Regions from separate parts of the Homo sapiens genome. Here region 2 is linked to region 1. The links come from fine-mapping of genetic effects on gene expression. A gene starts in region 1. The other region holds a variant in brackets. All regions are shown on one strand. Distances are between the middles of the regions. Region 1 holds the start of WDR97 (WD repeat domain 97). Region 2 has its middle 4.6 kb from the start of OPLAH.

What was found. PIP is the estimated chance that this variant, and not a neighbour inherited with it, causes the effect. A credible set is the group of variants that fine-mapping cannot tell apart.
Region 2: its variant is the best candidate, but not a certain one, in a credible set for the expression of WDR97 in blood mononuclear cells (TOPMed, PIP 0.66).

The regions. Positions count from the first base shown.
Region 1 is chr8:144,106,407-144,109,258 of GRCh38, reverse strand. It overlaps WDR97 (WD repeat domain 97), which reads right to left and starts at 1,520. Exons shown (of 24, transcript NM_001316309.2): 1 at 1,397-1,520; 2 at 1,064-1,200; 3 at 315-943; 4 at 89-210. The coding sequence starts at 1,508. MAF1 (MAF1 negative regulator of RNA polymerase III) reads right to left here. Exons shown (of 8, transcript NM_032272.5): 5 at 2,795-2,852; 6 at 2,585-2,704; 7 at 2,296-2,424; 8 at 1,648-2,171. The coding sequence ends at 2,150. RefSeq lists an enhancer at 47-577.
Region 2 is chr8:144,063,887-144,066,784 of GRCh38, reverse strand. It overlaps a transcript of OPLAH not described here and a transcript of EXOSC4 not described here. Among named protein-coding and RNA genes, the nearest start is that of OPLAH, 4.6 kb to the right of the region's middle. The variant A/G (reference allele first, on the strand shown) is at 1,698.

The sequences.
Region 1 (2,852 bases):
GGCCTGGCCGGAGCTGCGGAGATGCTGGACAGCCTAGAGCGGCTGGAGGCAAAGGGCCGAGGCTCGGGGTGCAGAGAACTCAGAGCACCTGTGTGGCCCACGAACACCATCCGGATCTGCCAGTCAGCCTCCCACACCTTCACGGTGCTGTCCCGGGAAGCTGTCACCATTGCCTCTACTTCCTCGCAGTAAGCCAGGTCCGAGATGGTGCTACAGGTGGGGAATGGGAGAATCCCAATGGACTTAACATCGCCTTGTGTGTGAGGGCCGTGTGCCCCTACATGCCTGGCCCTCCCTAGGGGGATCCCCCTCACGTTTTGTGCAAATCCCGGCGCACATCTACGAGAGTCCAGGCATGCAGATCGAAGGTGAGCACGGCCGAGCCATAGGCCGCGAAGCAGCGCAGGACGTGGTGGGGAGGAACCGGCGCCACAGCCAGACGCATGAGCCTGCCTGTTGGGCTCGGGGGCGGGTGCAGTGCTGACCCTCGCAGCACCAGGCGGCGACCACCTGAACGGAACTGCCAGAGCGCCAGGCTGCTGTTCATCTCCGCAACGAGCAGCAGCCTGAGGTCGGGAACCGGCAGGCAGCAGGTGGGCGCCCAACCCGGGGCCCTGCCCACCCCCTGCTCGCTCAGCCACAGCAGGCTGAGGTTGGGCCTCAGAATTGCCAGCCCCGCGGGGCCCCAGCCTACAAAACGGCCCACGGCACCCAGCGGGCCCAGCACGGTCACCAGCCCCGTAAGCCGGACAGGCGCCAGCAGCGTCTCCTGTGCCCAGCCGTCTTCCTTGTGCAGGTGCAGGCGGCCCGCGCCGTCCAGCACCACGAAGCGTCCACCCACCGGGTCCTGCGCCACCGAGCGCAGCCCGGCTGCCACCTCCAGGCGGCGCAGTGGTTCCAGCCCATGCGTCAGGCGCGCCGCGCGCAGCTCGGCTCTCTTCTCCTGTGGGCCGGGGTGGGCGGGCCCGCAATCAAAGGTTGGGGCTACTCCGGCCTAGGGGACCCCTAAGGGAAGGCCCAGATCCGGAAAGAGGCCAGGAGGCGCAGGACAGGCACACCGCACCTTTTCCACGACTTCGTGGAGGCTGGTGCGCAGAAGCAGCCACAGCCGGCGGGCGCGGGCGCGCGGGGTCAGGCTTTGCCACTGTTGGCTGCTGGTCAAAAAGGGCAGGACCTGCGACGGCTCCGTGAAAGTCAACTCTGCGGGCAGGAACTGGAAGTTCTGCCACCTACAGCCTCAGGTCCTCGACCCTGACGGTTATGGGGAGCCCTCCTCCAGGGGCCCTGCCCTACCAGGGACTGCCCAGGGGAGTTTTGTTCCAGGGGACGGAACCCAAGCCCGAATGAGACCCACTTCCTAGCGGGATGCCCGGAGGGCGAGGCCAGGCCCCCTCACCATTCTTTTCGGTGAGCAGCCCAGGGTCTGGGACATCATAGCCATCCGCATCATACAGGTCCGAGTCCAGAACTAGGTTGTAGCCTTCTGCCTCCCACACCTCTGCCTCCATTTCAGCAACTGCGGTCCCAGAGCCCAACAGCTCCCAGGACTTAGCGGTCACGGCCCGCAGCGGCAGTTGCTAGGATACCAGATGCCGCCGGCCACTCCCACACCGCAGGCCCCACCCCCACACCGCATCAGGTCCACACTAAGTCACAGAAACTTTTATTGGAAAGAAACGAGCTGCAGCAAAGTGACACTCAGTGCACGCGGCCAAATGGGCGAGGTGGGGGTACAGGTGGGCACCGGGGCCGGCCCAAGACCAGAGCCGGTGACTGCTGGGGCCTGCTCGTGGGGCCTCCGGCCACAGACCCTTTGGGCTGGAGTGTGCAGGCCCAGTAGAAATACAAAAATAAACTCTGCGGTCCAGCTGTCCCTGCTGTGGCAGTTCATTTGGGCAGGGCAGTCGCTCCTCCCACCAGGCCCCCTGCTGACAAGTCCGGCCACAGCATGGGCAGCAGGAGTCTGAGGGGTGAGTGGGCATCCACAGGATGGAGCCAAAGGGCTAGGCAGGTATGGCCTTGGGCAGTGCCAGGACTGTGGCAGCGCCAGGGTCTGGCCAGCAGCTGGGGAGGCCCCAGGGGCCTCTCAGGTGGACAGGTCCAGGCATTGGTTGAAGCTGGATGAAGCTGGGGCCTCGGCTCCTCCTCATCAAATACAGATCACTGGGACCCTGGGCGGAGGTTGGCACACAGTGGGCCTTCAGGAGCCACCACTTAGACCAAGTAGAGGAGGCCCCCACCCTGTTGTACCCACTCCAGGCTTCAAGGACCCGGGTCATGGCCCCCATCACACACCTGTCCTCCTCCATGGTGCTGGTCTCCTCGGCCCCACTGCCCCCGCTTCTGCTTTCTTCCTCCACCTCCTCCTCCCCCAGCTCCATGTCCAGCTCGTTGCCTGCCTCTGAGGGTGTGTAGGTGGAGCCACTGAGGGGAGGCAGGGAAACCAGTTTCAGGACCCCTACCCAGGCCTGCTGCTGGCCCCAGGGAGGATGTTCAGGGAGGGCAAAGCTGGGTGGAGATGGCACAGCTGGGGAAGTTGTATCGGCCCAACAGGGAGGTGGGGGAGGAGGCGGGGGGTGCCCACCTGATGGAACGGCAGCTAAAGAAGACGATTCGCTTGAGCCGCTTGTTGTAGAAGAAGTAGTTGAAGGACCAGAGGCTACCATCCTCCCCGAAGGGATCTGAGTCCAAGTCTGGGTTATAGCTGGGGAGTATAGGGTGACAGGTGGTGTGAGGCGCCAAGTGCCCCACAAACCTGGAGGCCTGGAGGCCATCTGCAGGGATGCCGGCCCACCTGTAGATGTCACATTCAGCCAGGCAGATCTCCTCGTCCACCGCGTTCCACAGCTGTG
Region 2 (2,898 bases), 42 kb after region 1:
AAATCTCTCCAACTATCAGAAATACTCTACTCCAGGCCAGGCTTGGTGGCTCATACTTGTAATCCCTAATCCCAGCACTTTGGGAGGCCAAGGTGGGTGGATCACCTGAGGTCAGGAGTTTGAAAACAGCCTGGCCAACAGGGTGAAACCCTGTCTCTACTAAAAATACAAAAAAATTAGCCAGGCATGGTGGCACACACCTGTAGTCCCAGCTACTTGGGAGGCTGAGGCAGGAGAATTGCTTGAACCCAGGAGTCGGAGGTTGCAGTGAGCCGAGATGGTGCCATTGCACTCCAGCCTGGGTGACAGAGTGAGACTCTGTCTCAAAAAAAAAAAAAAAAAAAAAAAGAGAAAAACTCTACTTTGGCCAGGTGTGGTGGCTCACACCTGTAATCCCAGCACTTTGGGAGAACAAGGCAGGAGGCCAGGAGTTTAAGGCCAGCCTGGGCAACATAGTGAGACCCCGGGCCAGGTGCAGTGGCTCACGCCTGTAATCCCAGCATTTTGGGAGGCCAAGGCGGAGGGATCACGAGGTCAGGAGATAGAGACCATCCTGGCTAACACGGTGAAACCCTGTCTCTACTAAAAATACAAAAAAAAATCAGCCAGGTGTGGTGGCGGGCACCTGTAGTCCCAGCTACTCGGGAGGCTGAGGCAGGAGAATGGCCTGAATCCGGGAGGCAGAGCTTGCAGTGAGCTGAGATCACGCCACTGCACTCCAGCCTGGGTGACAGCAAGATTCCATCTCAAAAAACAAAACAAAACATAGCGAGACCCTGTTTCTACCAAAAAAAAAAAACAAAAAAACTAGCCAGGCATGGTGGTGCATGCATCTGTGGTCCCAGCTACTTGGGAGGCTGAGGTAGGAGGATCCCTTGAGCCTGGGAGGTCAAGGCTTCGATGAGCTATGATTGCACCACTGCACTCCAGCCTGGGTGACAGAGTGAGACCCCATCTCAAAAAAAAAAAAAAGTAAATAAAATAAAATAAAAAAATAAAAATACTCTACTCCATTTTCTTCCTAATTATAGGAATTATTTTATTGTAGTTGAGACAGAGTCTTATTCTGTTGCCCAGGCTGGAGTGCAGTGGCACGATCTCAGCTCACTGCAACCTCTGCCTCCCAGGTTCAAGTGATTCTCCAGCCTCAGCCTCCTGAGTAGCTGAGATTACAGGTGCCTGCCATCGCGGCCAGCTAATTTTTGTATTTTTTTTTTTAGTAGAGATGGGGTTTCACCATGTTGGCCAGGTTGGTCTCGAACTCCTGACCTCAGGTGATCTGCCCGCCTCAACCTCCCAAAGTGCTGGGATTACAGGTGTGAGCCCCTGCACCCGGCCGAGAATTAAATTGTCACAATTTCTGTTGGGATTCAGTACAGTTGCCCCCAGTCTCCTGGAGCACTAGTCTCAGGGGCACTGCCCCCACTCGCACAGGTGAGGGGCCCTGCGATGGCTCCACTCGAGTAGCCAGGGAAAGGAGTTTGAGAATCCCAGGACAGTCTACAAATCAGCAAGTGGAAACTAGACCATCAAACAAGCAAAAGAGAAAAATGATGTAAAATACATAATAATCATAATGTAAGAAAAAGCCAGAAAACCAAAGTAACTGTGCAGAAGTGTCCCTTTAAAGACAGATTGGAGGCTGGGCGCGGTGGCTCACGCCTGTAATCCCAGCACTTTGGGAGGCTGAGGTGGGC[A/G]GATCACGAGGTCAGGAAATTGAGACCATCCTGGCTAACACAGTGAAACCCCGACTCTACTAAAAAAAATACAAAAAAATTAGCCAGGCGTGGTTGCGGGCACTTGTAGTCCCAGCTACTTGGCAGGCTGACGCAGGAGAATGGCGTGAACCTGGGAGGCGGAGCTTGCAGTGAGCCCAGATGGCGCCACTGCACTCCAGCCTGGGCGACAGAGCAAGACTCCATCTCAAAAAAAAAAAAAAAAAAAGACAGATTGGATAGAAGAAGAAAGTCCTTTATGTGATCTAAAATGCAAACCACTGTCACCACTGAGGGTGAGGGTGGCTCTCCTGTCCCTGGGGAGGTGTGTCTTTAGGTCCTGGTCCTCAGCCTCTGGTGGGCCGCCTGGCCCATCCCCTTCCTTGAGGTTATGGCCCAGATGTGGTGCCTCTTCCAGGGCACCTGCCTGCTCGCTGCAACCTCCATGTGACAATGCCAAGGCCCTGTGCCCCCAGAAACAGGCCCAGCCTCCCTTGTGGTGGCTCTAGCACTGCCTGGTGCATCCCTTGGCCTGCAGCCCCCTCCCATGCTGTCCTAGCGTGCTCTCGGCTGGCTCTGCCCCTGTAGCCCTGGCCTGCCCTGGTTGCTGCTGTCCAGCTCCTGCTGTTGCTGGGCCCCATCCTGCAGGGCAGCCACGCACCCACCCTTCCTGATCCCTTCAGAAGCTGTGCCAACCGTGACTGCCGACATACCACACCTGGTTGCCTAAAACTATGTCCTGGCATGGCCAGGCCTGGAGGCTGTGGCTGGTGGCCAGTGGGCTGTCAGACGGGTGGGTGCGGAAGCCTGCATCCCATATCCCTTCCCCCACGACACACCTGGGCTTGGCCGGGTCAAAGAAGCTTCCATCTTCTAGGAGGAGGATTCCTGGAGTGAGCCAGAGACCTGGGACAGTTCTGGGCACCCACTGGCCATTTGGCCCTCAGGGGGCTGGAGGTCAGAGGTCAGGCCACCTCTGCCACGGGGTGGTTGGAACAGCTGGGTCCTGACCCTGAAGGCCCGGAATGCGGCTGAGGCGAGGGGGCAGGGGCAGCTGCTGACCTCACAATAGCAGGGTCTGCTGTCCCTGGCCGGCCTGCTGGCCCCCGCCAGCTGCCGCCGCTGGCTGCCAGGCATGTCCCTCCTCAGCAGCTATGAGGGCCTGCGGCAGGAGATCCAGCGG